Regions from separate parts of the Homo sapiens genome. Here region 1 is linked to region 2. The links come from fine-mapping of genetic effects on gene expression. Tissue or cell type: whole blood. Region 2 holds a variant in brackets; the other region holds the start of a gene. All regions are shown on one strand. Distances are from middle to middle.

Region 1 (10,575 bases), 23 kb after region 2:
TAGCTAATTTTTTGTATTTTTAGTACAGATGCAGTTTCACCATGTTGGCTTGGATGGTCTCGATCTCTTGACCTCATGATCCACCTGCCTCAGCCTCCCAAAGTGCTAGGATTGCAGGCGTGAGCCACTGTGCCTGACCTGACCCTGTCTCTTAAAAACGTAAAAAAAGCCAGGTGTGGTGGCATGCACCTGTCATCCCAATACTCAAGAGGCTGAGGTGGGAGGATCGCTTGAGTCTGGGAGGTTGAGGCTACAGTGAGCCAAAATGGCGCCATTGCACTCCAGCCTGGGCAACAGAGATCCTGTCTCAAGGAAAAAAAAAAAAAAAGAATCTGAAGCTAGGTGGATTATCTCAGGCTTGTTCTACTACATACAAATTTTATTTCTAATGCCCAGAAGATAACATGCAAACTCTCGAGAAGACCTGGTACGTTAGCTTTTTTAAATGTGTGTTTTAAAATTGTTTTTATGTACTTAATTTTAAAAATACATAAGACATTCTCATGGAACAACAATCTGAAAGTGTAAAAAGGTTTACAGGTCAGGTGTGGTGGCTCATGCCTGTAATCCCAGCACTTTGGGAGGCCGAGGCAGGCGGATCACAAGGTCAGGAGTTCGAGACCAGCCTGGCCAACATGGTGAAACCCTGTCTCTACTAAAAATACAAAAATTAGCCAGGCATGGTAGTACCTGTTGTCCCATCTACTCAGGAGGATAAGGCAGGAGAATCACTTGAACCCGGGAGGCAGAGGTTGCAGTGAGCTGAGATTGCTCCACTGCACTCCAGCCTGGAAGGCAGAGTAAGACTCCGTCTCAAGAAAAAAAAAAAAAAGGAAAAAATATAAAATGCAAACCCCTGGTCTTCCCCTTCCAAGCCTCCCTGCTGTGACTCCTCAGCTGGCCTCTCTGGCCCAATGTCCTCCTGCAGGGATCTCACGGTCCTTCTCCCGTGCCAGGGCACACATACTTTTCCCTGCCCCGCACCCCTTCCAAATGCTGTCTGTTCATTCCACTTCCTCCAAGACTCTACTCTCACGTTCCCTTCTGCTTCTCCGGACCAACCTTACCACTCCTGGGAATTTCTTTAAAACACCTCCCCCCAGGCCCCCAAGACCTAGGAGTTTCCCCACCTGCGTGGGGCTGAGAAGCAAGTGAGAGAGCTATGGGAACAAAACCTAGCTCTGCAAATGCCAAGCTTGTGATTGTGAGGAAGTCACTGCCATCTGGATCTCGTTTCCTCATCTATAAATTGAGGGCTGGGACTGGCCATCTCTCAGGGTTCCTGGGCTGTGTGTTTTTCTAGTTCTGTGGAAGTTTTGCACTTCCTTTATCTGGTATTTCTGTGAAAAAGGCTCATCAGACTTTGGGGAAATCGATCCTCCCCCTGCCTCCCAGCTCACTGTTACTGACATTTCTCTTCCCCACCAAGATCTCAAGGAGGGCATTTTCCCTGCCAAGAACATTCTGGAAGTGCATTCCAAACCCTGCCTGCCAGAGGCCACCTCACCTTGGTGTTTCTGACATGGAGAATCTGAGGAAGAAAGGGGAGGACAGAGGGAGGACAGGGTGAGAGAGGATGGGAAGAGGAAATGCAAGAAATGCAAGAGGTGGTTATCCAAGTCACTGGGGAGGGCCTACCAGTAGTAGGCTCCAGGTGGGCTTAACAGAAGTGTTAGGCCAGGCGTGGTGGCTCAAGCCTGTAATCACAGCACTGTGGGAGGTCAAGGTGGACAGATCACCTGAGGTCAGGAGTTTGAGACCAGCCTGGCCAACATGGCGAAACCCCGTCTCTACTAAAAATGCAAAAATTAGCCAGGCATGGTGGCATACAACTATAATCCCAGCTACTCAGGAGGCTGGGGCAGGAGAATCACTTGAACCCGGGAAGTGGAGGTTACAGTGAGCTGAGATCGAGCCAGTGCTCTCCAGCCTGGGCAACAAGAGCGAAACTCCATATCAAAAAAAAAGGAAGTGTTACCGGTGGAGGGTGTGTAGGTTCTTGGCATTCTGAGCAAAGAATTGGACAAAAATGCAGAAACAAAGCAAGGAAAAAATGAAGCAACAAAAGCAGAGATGTAATGAAAATGAAAGGCGGAGGTTGCAGTGAGCCAAGATCATGCCACTGCACTCCAGCCTGGGCCATAGAGCGAGACTCTGTCCCAAAGGAAAAAAAAAAAAAAAGACAACCTCAGAACTGAAATGTGATCCTGGGAAGGCTACCAAACATGTAAAAGGTTTACAAAAATTTGCATTGTCATGAATTATTATAATCTTTTATAAGTCATTCAACCAGTTTGCAGAGAGAGAGAGAGGGGCCAGAAGTCCAACTGGTAGGAAATTCTTACCCTAGGCCAGCGCGGTGGCTCACACTTGTAATCCCAGCACTTTGGGAGGCCGAGGTGGGTGGATCACGAGGTCAGGAGTTCAAGACCAGCCTGGCCAAGATGGTGAAACCCACCTCTACTAAAAACTACAAAAAGTAGCCGGGTGTGGTGGCAGGTACCTGTAATCTCAGCTACTCCGGAGGCTGAGGCAGGAGAATCACTTGAACCTAGGCGGCAGAGGTTGCAGTGAGCCGAGATCACACCATTGCACTCCAGCCTGGGTGACAGGGCGAGACTCCATCTCAAAAAAAAAAAAAAAAGAAAGAAATTCTTACCCTATTGTTGGCATGTTAGGTTTCTGGGTTCTTTCTCCTTGAGCGGCCCAAATGATGCTGCTCGACTGTATGCAAACAAACACATTGCCATGAATTAAGAATATTCCAGTGGCTCATGCCTGTAATCCCAGCACTTTGGGAGGCTGAGGCAGGCAGATCACGAGGTCAGGAGATTGAGACCATCCTGGCTAACACGGTGAAACCCTGTCTCTACTAAAAATAAAAGAATTAACTGGGCATGGTGGCATGTGCCTGTAGTCCCAGCTACTCAGGAGGCTGAGGCAGGAGAATCCCTTGAACCCAGTAGGTGGAGGTCAGGCTGGTCTTGAACTCCTGACTTCAAGTGATCCGCCCACCTCGGCTTCCCAAAGTGCTGGGATTACAGGCGTGAGCCACTGTGCCCGGCCTAACCATGTTTTTAATAGCCAGTGAGCATCAGGTGCTCACCTAAACATAAGGAAGGATATCAAAGTTAAATACATAGCTATTTTTGCCAACAACTCAGAAGATTTAGCTAATAGTATTAAATTAACTCTCATTTGTCAAAAAAAAAAAAAAAGCACGCAAACCAAGATCATTTTGTTTTGGCTGGGTTTATAGTTTTATAACCTTCTATGCCAAACTCTGACACCTCAAAGTATTTAGCAGAGACAAATATAAAGTCCAGACAAAAATGTATGCTGACAATTCTGAAAGCATTTCTATTTTACCAATAATTTTAAAACCAGCCTGTTTATTAAAGTTATACTTAAGTCATATGAACTTGAAAATTGCTTAGACTTATTTAGTTAATTTATGAGCACTCTTTTATTTATATGCCAATTTGGTAGGCACAAGATATAACAGTAAGTGTACCTACAAATAAACACATCTAGACATGTATATACCGACACAAACAAAGATCCAATAGCTTGGAACTGTAGCCATGAGATAGCAATACAAGCTCGCTGGTTTTACTTTGTTTGCCCCAATAGATAATCCAATGAAGGCTGTGAACTAAAATTTTGGGTAAAGTAGTTTTCATGGCAGTTTGATTTTTTTGTTTGTTTGTTTGTCTATTCATTTAAGACTGAGTTTCGCTCTGTCACCCAGGCTGCAGTGCAGTGGCGCAATCTCGGCTCACTTCAACCTCCACCTCCTGGGTTCAAGTGATTCTCCTGCCTCAGGCTCCCAAGTAGCTGGGATTATAGGCGTGTGCCACCATGCCCAGCTAATTTTTTGTATTTTTAGTAGAGACAGGGTTTTACCATGTTGGCCAGGCTACTCTCGAACTCCCGACCTCAGGTAATCCACCCATCTTGGCCTCCCAAACTGCTGGGATTACAAGCTAGAACCACCTCGCCTGGCCTGGCAGTTTGATTTTTATTTGTATTTATTTTTTATTTTTTCTTTTCTTTCTCAGTCTCCAGCCTCCCGAGTAGCTGGGATTACAGGTGCACGCCACCAGGCCTGGGGAATTTTTCTATATTCTGTAGAGACGGGGTTTCGCCACGTTGCCCAAGCTGGTCTGGAAATCCTGAGCTCAAGCAATCCGCCCACCTCGGCCTCCCAAAGTGCTGGGATTACAGGCGTGAGCCACCGCGCCCGGCCGAATTATTTAAGAAGCGAATTTCTTAGTCTATGAAAATGACGTTCAACGGCAAATGGCAAAATGAAGTTCTGACTTTTCCACCTGTAAAGTAGATTGATATGAGCGGGAGTGAGAAGACCTTGTCGCTATCAGTATAAGACAAGAGAACTGAGGGCAGCCAGTTGTGGCCACAGCAACTCTCTGAGTGAATTGCTGCCACACTGGGCACAGAAGCGCACACTCTGAAATCGAATGTTTGGATTCCTTTCTACATAATTCTACTAAAGAGTTATTCCACAGCCTAGGGGCTGCCTTAGAGCCCCGTTTGAGACACTCTGGGCTCACAGATCATGAAGTCAGTGCGCAAACGCGGGCAGACCCTGAACCAGGTGCCCAACGCCCAGCCCTCACTTCCAGAGCTCAGGACTCTCGCAAGAGCGACTCCAGCCCCGGCCTGCCGCTGTCTACATTCGCGCTCTTCCTTCCTCGGGAAACAAACGGTGGATCAGATCTCCAAGGCTCTGAGTTTCCCAGAGTTTGGCCGTGCGCCAGCGCAGCGCAGCCCCTCCCAGCAGCACAGCACAGACCCCACCCCATCCTCCAACGCCCGGGGTTCCTGCTCTATCACCTACACCACCACCACCACGTGCAGGCCCGAGAAGGCAAAAGAGGCCCAGCCACTCTCACCGGGGATTTTATCCGCCTCCCCGGCACACACACACTCTCACTCACGCACTCGCTCGCCGGCCTTCCAGCTGTCTGTGTCCGGGGCGGGGACCGGCTTGGCGCAGCCCGCTGTCAGCGCTCGCCGGCTCCTCGCGCCCCTACCCGCTGCGCTCTGCCCAGAGCAGAAGCCCGGCCGGCCGGCCCACGGGCGGGAGGACGCGCCTCCGCTCGGGCGGAGGCGGCGCGGTGGCTGATCAGAGCGCGTAGGGCTTCGCCGGGGCCGGGAGCTGGGCGCGGTCCTGCTCAGCCCAGCTCACCGCGCGCCGGCCCTCGGCGCCCTGGTTCTGCGGATCAGGTGGGTCCCGCGGGGAGCCGCCCAGGTCCCCGGAGGCCACGAGCAGGACACGGACGGGGGGCTCCGCGCTTGGGAGAGGGTGGTGAGGGAGTGGAGGCGGGCCGCTGCTCCGGCGCTGCCCGGTGTCTGCCCTGCCTGTGTCCCTGCTTTTGTTCTTGTCGCTACCTCGGTGCCAAATCGGACCCAGTTTCTGTCCCTCTGTCCCCATCCTGTGGCCGTCCCTCCCTCTGTCCAGCCTTCCAAGACTGGAGCCTGAAGAGCTGCAAGCTGAGGTTCCCCCACGGGTCCGCGGGGTTGGGGTGGGGGAAGAGAGGGGAGACGCAGGGGACACAGGATGCGACCAAGTAAGTCGCAGTGAGTGAGGGGTCTGTCCTTGCCTGTGGGGCAGGACAGAGGAATGGCTCTTGCCCAGGACAAGATAGGAAGGGCGCGCCTCTGGGAAGGGGAATCTGGGAGTGGGGGGATAAAGTGAGGGTCGCAGGAACCCCAAGGAGGAAGGGAATAGAGAGGGAGATGTCAGAGAGCTTCGGAGAGCCGAGGACTCAGTCAGACGCCCAGCATGGGGAAAGTTTCCGACACTAACTTTGGCATCCGGGGTGCCTGCAGCACTGGGGCGATGGGAGGCGGGAGTTTCCTCCAACTCTTCAAACCTTGCTCCTACTCGAAAAGGACACCACCCCGCGTTTGGAAATGGCAGGAAAACGGCTAAACACAATGATTGCACAAACTCTTGAAGAAAGTAAAAAAAAAAAAAACAGTAAAAAGAAGAAGAAAAAAATGTCAGCGCGCAAAGAGCCAGAGAAGCAGAGGGATTTGAGATTCCTCGATCTTCCCGCTGTGGCGGCCGGGAGGGACTGGGAGGCGCGGAGGGTGTGAGAGCCGCTCCTCCGGCAGGAAGGAACCGAGACCCGAGGCAGGTGTTTTGAGGCTTTGCTCTTCCTTTGCACTCCTTCGGGCTCCTGAGCAGGCCGGGCTGCCTCCTTCCTTTACCTGGAAACAGGCGTGTCTGAGGAAGCAGGAGATGTAGGGTGCAGCCCTGGCCTGCCGCTTGCTGCCAGTAAGGAACCACCTTCCCAGACAGAGCCTCAGTTTCCCCGATTGTGAAATAAGGATACTACTGGAGACCTTCCTTCCAGTCTCTGAGTAAGGAAATGCAAGTGCATGGCGAAGGAGGGCTCTGGGAGTGGGGGGTGTGGAGGACAGGGTTATTCTGCTGCATTTCTGTGCTTCTTTGACTACATCAGGCACTTTCTACCTCTTTCGGAGTTACATCTGGGTGAATTTTGCCTCCTCTACCAGATGGGGGCAGCATGTGGATCTAAGTTATCTCATTTACATGTAACAGGTGCTCAATGACTGAATAAGGCAGAGCTGAACGAGTCCCTAGGGATTGCCCAGTCCAGAAGTTTCAACTCTGTCCTGTAAGGCCCGGCATCCTGCCTCAAGGGCCACCATGGTAGGGGAGGGGAACCTAGAGGACAGGGCTCTGGCCCCTTCCCTATCTTATTTCAGACAGAACCAGTTCTGTTCTTCCTTTATCTCCTCTATGTATTGGGAAACTCCTGAGAACGTTTTTGATGTCAGATTGCTCAGATCCAACCTGATCCAGTTTTTGGTGGAGTAGCTGAGGTCCAGAAGTGTGCAACGTGATTTGGGCAAACTTCTCTAGTGGCCACACCTTACCAGGAGACCTGTCCCCTAAATCATAGGCTAGGAGCTGCCTTTGTCTGGCCATGGTGGCTCTGAGCAGCCATTTCCCCAGCTCTTACCACCAGCTCTCCTACACTCCAACTCCAGGGCCACAGGGCTGCCTTCTGGCCCTTCTGGGAGAAGAAGCCTGTGAATCTCATCCTCTGAGCACTTCCAGACCTTTAGTGGGACCATTTATGTGAGTTGGTCTCACAGGTTGAGGTAAAAAATAATGAGGTTCCCTGGCCCAACTGAGTAGACTAGGTACCTGCCTGTGTCCCTGCTTTTGTTCTTGTTGCTACTTCTATGTCAGAACGGACTCAGTCTCTGTCCCCATTCTGCGCCCGTCCCTGCCTTCGTCCAGCCTTCTAAGACTGGAGCCTGAGGGGCTGTGGGCTGAGCAGCCCCTCAGGCTAACCCATTTTCTAGTTGAGGAAAGGAAGGCTGAGAGAGACCAAGAAACATATGGGCACTCAGCAACTAAATGGCAGCTAGGATTTGAATGCAGTTCTGGCTCTAAGGTTGGTGCTTTTTCCATTACATCACCTCTCATGATGGCTAAAAAATGGCTAATGGACAAATGTCATGGAGACGGGGCAGAGGTGAGGGGAGAACAACCGAAGGAGGGGGCAGCTTTCAGTAGGGGACTGGACATTAATAGAGGTATAAACTCATAAATATAATTTTATCTGAAATGAATGTACTCTTTGCCCTGTACTTTCCTTTTATTTTAGGTTGGATATGTAAAACTTATTTTCTTTCTTTTTTTTGAGACAGTCTCCCTCTGTTGCCCAGGCTGGAGTGCAGTGATGCTATCTTGACTCACTGCAACCTCCACCTCCCAGATTAAAGCAATCCTCCCACCTCAGCCTCCCAAGTAGCTAGGATTACAGGCGTGCACCACCATACCCAGCTAATTTTTTAATTTTTAGTAGAGACAGGGTTTCACCCTGTTGGCCAGGCTGGTCTCGAACTCCTGACCTCAGGTGATCCACCCACCTCCGCCTCCCAAAGTGGTAGGATTACAGGTGTGAGCCACCATGCCCAGTTGTAAAACCTACAAATCTTACGTGTTTGATTTGACAACTCTTTTTTTTGTTTGTTTGAGACAGAGTCTCATTCTGTCTCCCAAGCTGGAATGGTGGGATCTTGAATCACTGCAATCTCTGCCCCCTAGGTTCATTCAAGCGATTCTCTCTCTCTTTTTTTTTTTTTTTTTTTTTTTTTTTGAGATGGAGCCTTGCTCTGTCACTCAGGCTGGAGTGCAGTGGCATGATCTTGGCTCACTGCAACCTTTGCCTCCCGGGTTCAAGCGATTCTCCTGCCTCAGCCTCCTGAGTAGCTGGGATTACAGGCACCTGCCACCACACTGGCTAATTTTCTTTTGTATTTTTAGTAGAGTTGGGGTTTCACCATGTTGGCCAGGCTGGTCTCAAACTCCTGACCTTGTGATCTGACCACCTCAGCCTCCCAAAATGATGGGATTGCAGGTGTGAGCCACCACGCCCGGCCTACCTTCTATTTTTTACGATTGAATTTTAAGAGTTTTTGGAGAAAATAACATGAGTCAGGGCAGAATAGGGATATGGTGATATGGAGATGGTGATATGGAGACCATTATGGGCCAGGGCTTGGGAAGGAAAGAACCAAATGGTGGTTGGAATAATGACCTCAGGAATAGGGATTTCTGGGCACTAATATGTTATGTGAAAAATAAATAGACTTTTGTGGCCAAAAGCTAAGATTTGGGGGTTGTTTGTTATGCAGCATGGCTGCAGCAAAAGCTAACTGATACACATTATATAGATGCAATAAGTGCAGATTGTGATGAAACTTTCATGCCATGATAAGGAGTTGTGAGCAATGGGGAATCAACAGAGAAGTAAGGAAAATCACATAACAGGTTAGTCTCTATGGGTCAACTGGGATTTAAAGACCTGGTACTTGTACTCTGTGGGCCAGGCAAATTCATCCATGTTCATGGCTTTAAATGCTACTTCTGTAGCATTCATCTTATCTCAAACTTTGGGCATCTAATTCACATGTTTAACTGCCCAATGGGCATCTTTGTTTTGAATGTCTCAAAGGCACTGCAAACTCAACAAGTCCAAGCTAGAATTATCTTATGGTGGCTTTCCATCACGGGTCACTGTATGAATGATGGTGCCACTAGCTGAGAGAGTAAGGGAGAATGAATGTTTGGGAAGGGGAGAGATAATGAGTTTAGTTCCATGCTAAATGGTTCAGAGCAGTCCAGGAAGATAAGGATTAGAAGTTGCATTGGGTAATTAGGAGATTACTGGAACATACTGAGAGCAGTTTTGATGGAGTGGAGGGTAGGCAAGCTAGATTGCTGATAGGTAAGGAGGACATAATGAAAACAATGAGGATAGTCAGCTCTTTCTCTTTTTTTGAGATGGAGTTTTGCTCTTGTTGCCCAGGCTGGAGTGCAGTGGCATGATCTCAGCTCACTGCAACCTCCGCCTCCCGGGTTCAAGTGATTCTCCTGCCTCAGGTTCCCAAGTAGCTGGGATTACAGGCATCCACCACCACGCCCAGCTAGTTTTTTGTATTTTTAGTAGAGATGGGATTTCACCGTGTTGTCCAGGCTGGTCTCGAACTCCTGACCTCAAGTGATCCACCTGCCTCAGCCTCCCAAAGTGCTGGGTTTACAGGCATGAGCCACCATGCCTGGCCCAGGATAGTCAACTCTTTCCAGAAGTTTATTTGAGGTCAGGAGAGGCCAGGTGTGGTGGCTCACACCTGTAATCCCAGAACTTGGGGAGGCCAAGGTGGGCAGATCACCTGAGGTCGGGAGTTCGAGACCAGCTTGGCCAACAAAGTGAAACCCCATCTCTACTAAAAATACAAAAATTAGTTGGGTGTGGTAATCCTGTAATCCCAGCTACTTGGGAGGCTGAGGCATGAGAATTGCTTGAACCCGGGAGGTGGAGATTGCAGTGAGCTGAGATGGCACCACTGCACTCCAGCCTGAGTGACAGAGCAAGGCTCTGTCTCAAAAAAAAAAAAAAAAAAAAGAATGATGTAGATTTGGTCCATGCGCTGAAGGCAAAGGGGTCATCACGTAGTATGCTCAACCCAGGTTTCTTTCTTTTCTTTCTTTCTTCCTTTATTTGTAAAAGATGAGGTCTTGCTTTGTTGCCCAGGCTGGGGTACAGTGGCTATTCACAGATGTGATCTCATTACCAATCAGCACGGGAGTTTTATCCTGCTCCATTTCCAACCTAAGTCAGTTTACCCCTCCTTAGGCAACCTGGTGGTTCCCCACTCCCAGGAGATCACCATATTGATGCCAAACTTAGTGCAGACACCTGATCTATCTGCATAGTACACTGCAGCCCAGAACTCCTGGGCTCAAGTGATCCTCCCACCTCAGCCCCCTGAGTAGCTGGGATGGTAGGTGTGAGCCACCATGCCTGGCAACCCAGAATTACTTCTAAAAGTCCTTTCAGTTCTAAAAAGAAGAAGTGAATATCTGCTGTCTAAATCTCCAGCCAAAGAGCTGATTGGCTCAGCTTGTCCAAATGTGGCGAGGAGACCACAGACCTCTGTCACGTGCAATCAGACCCGGCCATGAGAGTTTCCAAGGCTTGGGCTTTAGCAGCCATTATGCCA
Region 2 (10,575 bases):
CCTTGGTCTTTTTTAAACAAAATTATAAATTTTTGAAAAGGAAAATTTAAAAAAAAATTTTTTTTTTTGAGACGGAGTTTCACTCTTGTTGCTCAGGCTGGAGTACAGTGGCACAATCTCGGCTCACTACAACCTCCACCTCCCAGGTTCAAGCGATTCTCCTGCCTCAGCCTCCTGAGTAGCTGGGGTTACAGGTGCCCACCACCATGCCTGGCTAATTTTTTGTATTTTTGGTAGAGACCGGGTTTCACCATGTTGGCCAGGCTGGTCTCAAACTCCTGACCTCAGGTGACCTGCCCGTCTCAGCCTCCCAAAGTGTTAGGATTACAGGCCCCTTGGCATGAACAGACTGGGCGCCATGAATGGCAGCAGGAGGCAGACAGGCTCCTGGGTGGGAGAAGGCAGGTCCCTGGTGAGGCCCCACCTTCAAGCCAGGGAGGGCCTGAAGCCTGGGGGCTGGGCTGCCAGTCCCATGGAAAGGAGTGGGAACTTGTGGTGCTTTTTCTAGGCCCACTCATGGCCGCTCATGGACCAATTGGTGCACACTTCCTTCCCTCCGAGGAAGGGTACGAACCCTCAGCTCCTCCTTGGCCTCCCTCCCCTGCTCATCGGTGTTCAAAGTCTGGAAGGGGCTGAGGTGGCAGGCGGCTTGTGTGTCAGCACTGCACCAAGTGTACCCACACCCGGCCGGGCTGTGACAGCGCCTGGGCTCAGCCCCAACCTCACTCCAAGATCAAGGAGAGGCCAGGCAACGGGAGCAGGAACTTCCAAGCCTGCGGGGGAAGGGGGTGTCTTCCCAGGCCCCCGAGAGTACAGAAATGCCTGGGTCCACAGCCACGGATTGGGCAGCTGCCGCTGCGCCTGGAAGGGTGGGGCTCCTGTCTGCTCCCAGCCCCCAGCCCCCAGCCCCCACTGGCTCCATGGAGTATGCAGCGCCGGCCGCACCTCACCCACTGTAGCCAGTGTCACGACAGCGGTTTCTCTAGACAGGCCACCACTGCCATCACCAGCACTTTGGGAGGCTGAGATGGAGGATCATTTGAGCCTAGGAATTCAAGACCAGCCTGGAATGCATAGCAACATGGCAAGACCCATCTCTACAAAATATTAAAAAATTAGCCAGTGCACACCTGTGGTCCCAGCTGGTACATGCCGGGGCACACCTGTGGTCCCAGCTACTCAGGAGACTGAGGTGGGAAGATGGCTTGAGCCCAGGAGGTGGAGGCTGCAGTGAGCTGAGACTGCATCACTGTACTCCATCCTGGACAACAGAGTAAGATCCTGTCTTGAAAAAAAGTGTTTACTTTTATTATTTTTGTTTTTTTGAGACAGAGTCTCACTCTGTTGCCCAGGTGGAGTGCAGTGGTGCAATCAGTTACCGCAACCTCTGCCTCCCAGGTTCAAGCCATTCTCCTGCCTCCTGAGTAGCTGGGATTACAGGCCGCCACCACATGCCCAGCTAATTTTGGTGTTTTTAGTAGAGATGGGGTTTTACCCTGTTGGTCAGTCTGGTCTCAAACTCCTGGGTTCAAGTGATCTGCCCACCCCGGCCTCCCAAAGTGCTGGGATTACAGGTGTGAGCCACCGTGCCCAGCCAAAAACATTTTTTAATGAAAAAATATTTTAAAAAAGAATTCTTAGCAAACCAAAGACAACAGGAAAAACAACAAGGAGGGACTAGAGGAATTTATTTGAAGCCTGTGGCACCTACAGCTGCAGGAAACATTCCAGACAGCCCGACTCCTCAGTAGATTAACATGAAACCTCACACTAAAAGCCTCATTACCTGGGTTCCTACCACCAGATACTCGATGGCTGGCTTTCTACAACAAATCACAAGGTCTGCTAAAAGGCAAGAAAAAAACACGGCATGAAGAGGCAAAACAGGCATCAGAACCAGACTCAGATATAAAACAGAATAAGGAATTATCAGATAAAAATTTTGAAATAACTCTGATTATATTGGCAAAGACTCACTCCTTTGACCAAAATATTAGTCAAGCTCCTCTGAGTTCTCTGCTTGATTAGGACTTTCTTGGGCTTCCCTTTCTGTCCTTGCAGAATCCAATTGGAGCAGGAATCCTGCTAGGTCTGCTTATTGAAAATCCCTCCTCTTGGCATCTGACTAACCTGGCCAACCTTTATCAAGAGTCCTATCAAAGCCTGGGTGCAGTGGCTCACACCTGTAATCCTAGCACTTTGGGAGGCCAAGGCAGGTGGATCGCTTGAGCTTAGGAGTTCAAGACCAGCCTGGGCAACATGGTGAAACCTTGTCTCTACAAAAAATACAAAAATTAGCTGGGCGTTGGCCAAGGCACAGTGGCTCACTCCTGTAATTGCAGCCCTTTGGGGGGCTGAGGCAGGCAGAATCACCTGAGGTTAGGAGTTCAAGATCAGCCTGGCCAACATGGTGAAACCCCATCTCTACTAAAAATACAAAAAAATTAGCCAGGCATGGTGGTGGGTGCCTGTAATCGCAGCTACTTGGGAGGCTGAGGCAGGAGAATCGCTTGAACCTGGGAGGCGGAGGTTACAGTGAGCCAAGACTGCGCCATTACACTCCAGCCTGGGCGACAAGAACGAAACTCCATCTCAAAACAAACAAACAAAAAATAGCCAGGTGTGGTGGTCCAGATTAGAGGAGACTAAAGAGAAGCAATAACTAACCCAAGGTGTGATTCAGAGAAAATATGATGAGGGTAAATTCAGGGAAAATATGATGAGGGTCTGTGGAAGACAACAGAACTGTATCGACCTTAATTTCCTGATTTAGTCACTAGCCTGCGGTTATTTTTTGGGGGAAATACAGACTGAGGCATCTAGAGGTAAAGGAGCATCAATGTGGGTGAAGGGTGCATGGGAACTCTTTGTATAATTTGTATAATTTTTAGTGTTTCTGCTTGTCAGAAATCATGTCAACAAGAGAGTGAAATATTTAAAGCATTGAAAGAAAAAACCAGCCGGGTACAGTGGCTCACACCTGTAATCCTAACACCTCGGGAGGCCAAGGCAAAAGGATCACTTGAGCCCAGGAGTTCAAGACCAGCCTGGGCAACAAAGTGAGACTCTCATTTCTACCAAAAAAACACGAAAATTATCTGGGCATGGTAGCACGAGCCTGTAGTCCCAGCTAGTCAGGAGGCTGAGGTAGAAGGATCGCTTGAGCCTGGGAAGTGGAGGCTGCAGTGAGCAATGATCATGTCACTGCACTTTAATCTGGATGACAGAGTGAGATGCTGTCTCAAAAAAAGAAAAAACAAAATAAATACATAAATAAAATTGGAAAATGCAGACAGTACAGTTATATAATGAAAACTGTCTCTTCCCCCAACTATCTTTTCCCCACTGTTGATAATTTCTTGTGATTCTTCCCAGAAAAAAAAAAGCTTTATGCACATGTCAGCACGTATATATATTTTTAAATTCTGTATATGCTTTTTTAAAATTTTGCTTGAAATGGGTCCAAACTATACTTCCTATTCTGCATATTGATGTTGCCTGCTAGTAATAAATCTTAGAGAACTTTTTATATTCCTACATTCAGGTCTTTCTCATTCTTTTAAATAGTGCCATTGCATTCCATCCTATGAAAGGATTACACTTTGTTCAATCTGTTGGTTACTACTGACTACTTTTCTTGTTTTCAGTTTTTCACTGTTGCAAATGACACTGCAAAGAACATTCGTATACATTTCTCTCTCCCTAAAACAGTTTTCAGCCTGACACCGTGGCTCATATCTGTAATCCCAGCATTTTGGGAGGCTGAGGAGGGAGGATTTCTTGAGCCCAGGAGTTCAAGACCAGCCTGGGCCACATAGCGAGACCTCATCTCTACAAATAATAAAAAACAATTAGCTGGGCATGGTGATGCATGCCTGTAGTCCCAGCTACTCAGGAGGCTGAGGCAGGAGAATTGCTTGAGCCTGGAAGGTCGGGGCTTCAGTGAGCTGTGATCTTTTTTTTTTTTTTTTTTTTTTTTGAGACAGCCTCACTGTCACCCAGGCTGGAATTCAGTGGCATGATTTTGGTTCACTGAAGCCTCTGCCTTGGGGTTCAAGCAATTCTCCTGCCTCAGCCTCCCAAATAGCTGGGATGACAGGCACCTGCTACCATACCTGGCTAATTTTTATATGTTTAGTAGAGACAGGGTTTCACCATGTTGGCCAGGCTGGTCTACAACTCCTGACCTCAAGTAATTAAAAAAAAAAT[T/G]CTCACTCAGCCAGATGCGGTGGCCCACGCCTGTAATCCCAGCACTTTGGGAGGCCAAGGCGGGTGAATCACTTGAGGTCAGGAGTTCAAGACCAGCCTGGCCAACATGGTGAACCCCGTCTCTACTAAAAATACAAAAATTAGCTGGGTGTGGTGGTGGGCGCCTGTAATCCAAGCTGCTCGGATGGCTGAGGCAGGAGAATCGCTTAAACCCAGGAGGCAGAAGTTACAGTGAGCAGAGATCACGCCACTGCACTCCAGCCTGGGTGAGAGAGAGACTCCATCTCAAAAAAAAAAAAAAATTCTCACTCATAAGTGGAAACTAAACTATGAGGATGCAAAGCTTAAGAATGACACAATAGACTTTGGGGACTCAAGGGGAAAGGGTGGGAAGGAGGTGACAGATAAAAGACTACAAATTGGGTTCAGTGTATACTGCTTGGGTGATGGGTGCACCAAAATCTCATGAATCACCACGAAAGAACTTATTGTGCAACCAAATATCACCTGTTCCCCAAAAACCTATGGAAATAAAAAAAATTTTTTTTAATGTTTTAAATAAAAAAAAGGTTTTCTTTTGAAATGTTCTTTTGTAAATTACCTACAGAAAATTTACAAAAAATGTACACTCGGCCGGGCACAGTGGCTCACGCCTGTAATCCCAGCACTTTGGGAGGCCAAGGCGGGTGGATCATGAGGTCAGAAGTTCAAGACCAGCCTGGCCAATATGGTGACACCCCATCTCTACTAAAAATACAAAAATTAGCCTGGCGTGGTGGTGCACGCCCAGGAGGCTGAGGCAGAAGAATCACTTGAACCACAGAGGTGGAGTTTACCGTGAGCTGAGATTGCACCACTGCACTCCAGCCTGGGCTACACAGTGAGACTCCATCTCAAAAAAAAAAAAAGGTACACTCCTCACCAGCTTGCCTTAATGTTAACATCTTACATAATTGTTGCACAGTGATTAAAACCAGAAAATGGGCTGGGCGTGGTGGCTCATGCCTGTAATCCCAGCACTTTGAGAGGCTGAGGTGGGCAGATCACCTGAGGTTGGGAGTTTGAGACCAGCCTGACCAATATGGAGAAACCCCATCTCTACTAAAAATACAAAAATTAGCGGGATGTGGTGGCACATGCCTGTAATCCCAGCTACTCAGGAGGCTAAGGCAGGTGAATCACTTGAGCCCAGGAGGCAGAGGTTGCAGTGAGCCAAGATCACGCCATTGCACTCCAAACTGGGCAACAAGAGCAAAAGTCCATCTCAAAAAAAAAAATGAACATTGATATAATACAATAGTTACCTACATTTTTCCACTAATATCCTGTTCTAGTCCAAGATCCACTCTGGGATTCCATATTGCATTTAGTTGTTTCATTAATCAGAGTTTTCCAGAGAGATGGAATGAATAGGATGGATAGATAGATAGATAGATAGAGTTTATTAGTCCATTTTCATGCTGCTGCTAAAGACATACCCAAAACTGGGCAATTTACAAAAGAAAGAGGTTTATTGGACTTAGAGTTCCACATGGCTGGAGAGGCCTCACAATTCATGGTGGAAGGCAAGGAGGAGCAAGTCACATTTTAGGTGGATGACAGCAGGCAAAGAGAGAGCTTGTGCAGGGAAACTCCACCTTATAAAGCCATCAGATCTAGGGCTGGGCACCGTGGCTCATGCCTGTAATCCCAGCACTTTGGGAGGCCAAGGCAGGCAGATCACGAGGTCAGGAGTTTGAGACCAGCCTGGCCAACATGGTGAAACACCATCTCTACTAAAAATACAAAAATTAGCCAGGAGTAGTGGCAGGCACCTGTAGTCCCAGCTACTCGGGAGGCTAAGGCAGGAAAATTGCTTGAACCTGGGAGGCGGAGGTTGCAGTGAGCCAGGATAATGCCACTGCACTTCAGCCTGGGTGACAGAGCAAGACTCTGTCTCAAAAAAAAGTTACTGATCCTTGTTTTGTTTTTCAGAGTCAAGGAAACAAGCTATGTACAGCCTTTAATAATTAGGTAAGGTATAGTCTTGTAAACAAAATTTGGAGCATGTTTGTTTCTTTCTGCCTGACTTCTCCAAAATTTGGAAACTATTTGTGAGTACTCTTAACTTATGGCAATATAGTTGTTTGCATCAGTGCAATAAGAATCCATTTCATTTTGCAACAGGACGCAATTGGAGAAATTAGTTGTTTTACTGGCTTTGACTGGAAGGGTATGCTTCCCTTGTAAATCAAGCTTGACTTACAGTGACAATAAAAGCCCCTTGGGAAAACTGGCCTCATACCTTGTCTACACCGTCCCCATACAGGGTTCCTAAGCTGTGGTGAATAGAGATTGTCACTTTCTCACAGGTCTAAGAACCCCATATTTTTGGAACTATAAGAAGAGAGGAATTCACCCAATTCATAGGTATTTCAGGGTACAAACCCATGGCTAGGCGTGGCTTTAAAAACTCCTATCTGAGATTTCTTATGGAACAGAGTTCTATCAAAGCCAATTTTAAAAGCCTATATAAAAACAATTATTCTTGTTGCACTTTATCCAAATAATCAGGCCAAGTATAAAACTAAAGTTTGGCTGGGCATGGTGACTCACGCCTGTAATCCCAGCAGTTTGGGAGGCCAAGGCAGGTGGATCACTTGAGGTCAGGAGTTTGAAACCAGCCTGGCCAACATGGTGAAACTCTATCTCTACTAAAAATACAAAAATTAGCCAGGCGTTATGGCATGCACCTGTAATCCCAGCTACTCGGGAGGCTGAGGCAGGAGAATTGCAGAGCGAGACTCCATCTCAAAAAAAAAACAAAAAAAAACCTAACATTTATTTTGCAAATTTTTTTTTTAATTTTTAAAATTTTAAATTTTAAAAACATGATTTGTTTTTAAAAAAATGAGGACCAGAGAGAGACAAATTATATTTCAAAACTTATACACTTGTCATTAAATTCTAATCTCCTTGGTTGTTTTTAGTTCTTGCCTACATTTTAGACTAACCCTGCTTATTCCTGTAAACCAACTAGCAATGTCAGGCTGCAGCTCAGAAAAAAAAAAGAAATGGGTAATGTAAAAATCTAGATCAGTATTCTAGTTCTGAGCAATTATCCTGCAAATCCTGCCAGGTGATGGGAGTAAATAGAGTTCCCATAACCCAGAGTTTTCTTTGTTTTGGAAAATAGAACCAAAGAAGTTAACCAAAGCCAAACCCCATGCATCCAAATCTTAGCAGGCAGAAATATAGCTACCAGTTATCTGGGCATGTTGGCAGCCTTGGGATTTTTGGCTGTCCTTACCCCCACCCCTTTGCTTTGTTTTAATACATGTCCTCTAATAATCCAAATTGTTTCTTCTTTCCTAAAGGCTATCAAGCTCCAAATAGTGATGCAAATGAAACCACACATGGATGCACCTTTCTTCCAAGGACTCTTAGACTGGCCTCAGTAGGAACCCTACCAGCTGTTCCCCACACAATCCCCCTCTCCAGTAGAAAGTAGCTAGAAGGATCATCTCCCCACTTCCCTAACAGCAGTTATGGTCTTCACTCCTGAGGAGGGGGAATGAGAGAGGAGAAAGGAAGAAACTGGTGAGGCAGGCAGTTAGGGTGGATTCTCAGTTAAATTCTTTCAAACAAAAGAACTGCCCAAAAAACGAAGCTGCACAGCCATTGCAGTACATTCAGCTCCATAGAGACAGTGCCGGGGCAAGTGAGAGCCAGATGGGCTCTCACTTGCATTTTTTTGTGCAAACTTGTCTGGAGAAGCATAAGAGAAGCACCCAGATGCTTCAGTCAACTTCTCAGAGTTTTCTAAGAAGTGCTCAGAGAGGTGGAAGACCATGCCTGCTAAACAGAAAGGAAAATTTGAAGATATGGCAAAGGTGGACAACGCCCATTACGAAAGAGAAATGAAAACCTACATCCCTCCTAAAGGGGAGATAAAAAAAGAGGTTCAAGTATCCCAATGCACCCAAGAGGCTTCCTTTGACCCTTTTCCTGTTCTGCTCTGAGTATCGCCCAAAAATCAAAGGAGAACATCCTGGCCTGTCCATTGGTGATGTTGCAAAGAAACTGGAAGAGATGTGGAATGACATTGCTGCAGATGGCAAGCAGCCTTCTGAAAAGAAGGCTGCAAAGCTGAAGGAAAAATATGAAAAGGATATTGCTGCATATCAAGCTAAAGGAAAGCCTGATGCAGCAAAAAAGGGAGTTGTCAAGGCTGAAAAAAGCAAGAAAAAGAAGGAAGAGGAGGAAGATGAGGAAGACGAAGAGGATGAGGAGGAGGAGGAAGATGAAGAAGATGAAGATGAAGAACAAGGTGATGATGATGAATAAGTTGGTTCTAGCGCAGTTTCTTTTCTTGTCTATAAAGCATTTAACCCCCCTGTACACAACTCACTCCTTTTAAAGAAAAAAATTGAAATGCAAGGCTTTGTAAGATTTGTTTTTAAACTGTATAGTGTCTTTTTTTGTATGGTTAACACACTACCAAATGTGTCTTTAGATAGCCCTGTCCTGGTGGTATTTTCAATAGACACTAACCTTGCCTGGTACACTATGGGGGTTGTAAATTGGCATGGAAATTTAAAGCAGGTTCTTGTTGGTGCACAGCACAATTTAGTTATATATGGGGATGGTAGTTTTTTCATCTTCAGTTGTCTCTGATGCAGCTTATACAAAATAATTGTTCTGTTAACAGAATACCACTCTGTAATTGCAAAAAAAAAAAAAAGCTGCAGCTGTTTTGTTGACATTCTGAATGCTTCTAAGTAAATACATTTTTTTAATACAAAAAAAGAAAAGAAAAATCAAGCTGCAGACACAGACAAGAGAACTTGCATGGGGGCTTGCCTAAGACATGCCCACAGATGCACAGATAAGAAAGCCTACACAGGTAACTTGCCTAGACATACCTGCAATGGAAAATTCCATCCCCTGACACAGGCGCAGTAAGGGAAACAAAGCAATATGGAGTAAATCAAGTTAAAGGCCCACATGCACATTAGGAGCATGGGGTGGAGCTAGTAGAAATTCGCACCTTATGCAAATGAGATGTCCAGCCCTCATCAGTTTCCTATAGAAGCCTTTGCATTCAACTGTAAAAATGGCAACCCTCTTTTAGGCCCCCTCTCCACAGCAGAGAGTTTTCTTCTTTTGCTTATTAAACTTTCATTCCAATCTCACCCTTGGTGTACACACATCTTAATTTTCATGGTCACGAGACAAAGAACTCCAGATGATACCTTGAACAATGAGAGACTGCTACATTATGGTGCATTGGTGAGACTGTAACACTAGCTTGGGGAAAACAATACTGTATAAATATCAGATGCTGATTCAGTGCTTAGGCAGCCTTCTCAAGACCCTTGTCCCAGCCCTATTGTCATCTAGCTGGCACTGTAACTGAGTCTACAAAAAACCACGCCACCATTCTGTCAAGCCAGATGCTTCAGGATGATGGGAAACATGGTAAGACCAGTGAATAATGTCATGAGCATGGGCTCATTGCTGCACTTTTCTGGCTGTGAAGTGTGTTCCCTCATCAGAAACAGGCTGGATATGGTGGGTCATGCCTGTAATCCCAACACTTTAGGAGGCTGAGGCAGGAGGATTGTATGGGGCCAAGAGTTCAAGGCTGTAGTAAGCCATGATCATGCCATTGCACTCCAGCTGGGCAACAGAGTGAGACCCTGTCTCAAAAAAAGAAGAAGCAATTCTATGTGGAATATTATGATTGATGATGGATAAGGCATTCCATAAGTCCAAATTCATATCCAGAGTGTCTGGTCCAGTAAGGACAGAATGCTGCCCCTTCCATGATGGGAGAGGACCAATGTAATCAACTGCCATCAGGTAGCTGGCTGATCACCCTGGGGAGTTGTGCCATTGCAGGGACTCAGTGTTGGTCTCTGCTGCTGGCAGATTGGACACTCAGAGGTGGCAGTAGCCAGGTCAATTCTGATGAGTGAGAGTTCAAGCTGCCGAACCCATGGATAACCTCCATCAGTGCCACCATGACCACTTTGTTCATGAGCCCACTGGGCAATGACAGGGATGGCTGGGGAAAGAGGTCGACTGATATCCACAGAATGGGCCATCCTATCCTCTTGAATATTAAAACTCCTCCTTGCTGAGGTCACCCTTTGGTGTGACCTCACATGGGGTACAAATATCTTCACACCTTTCCCCACTCAGAGAGGTCCGTCCACATAACTCTTCCTCAAATTTCTTTGTCACTGATGTTCCAACCATGTTTCTTCCAAGTTCCTGACCATCTGCCAAACCATTGGCTCCAGCTCATGAATTGGTTTACAGTCACACATCTGACCATTTCTCCTTTCAAAGCAAAGTGCACAACCAGGCCCACTGCCCAAA

Evidence for each region.
Region 1: GGTA1 starts here. The variant in region 2 is fine-mapped to the expression of GGTA1 in whole blood (TOPMed, PIP above 0.99).

The regions. Positions count from the first base shown.
Region 1 is chr9:121,494,325-121,504,899 of GRCh38, reverse strand. It overlaps GGTA1 (glycoprotein alpha-galactosyltransferase 1 (inactive)), which reads left to right and starts at 5,056. Exons shown (of 6, transcript NM_001382585.1): 1 at 5,056-5,250. It also overlaps the pseudogene RN7SL187P. RefSeq lists silencers at 5,007-5,106, 6,456-6,750.
Region 2 is chr9:121,517,776-121,528,350 of GRCh38, reverse strand. It overlaps the pseudogene HMGB1P37. Among named protein-coding and RNA genes, the nearest start is that of GGTA1, 23 kb to the right of the region's middle. The variant T/G (reference allele first, on the strand shown) is at 4,210.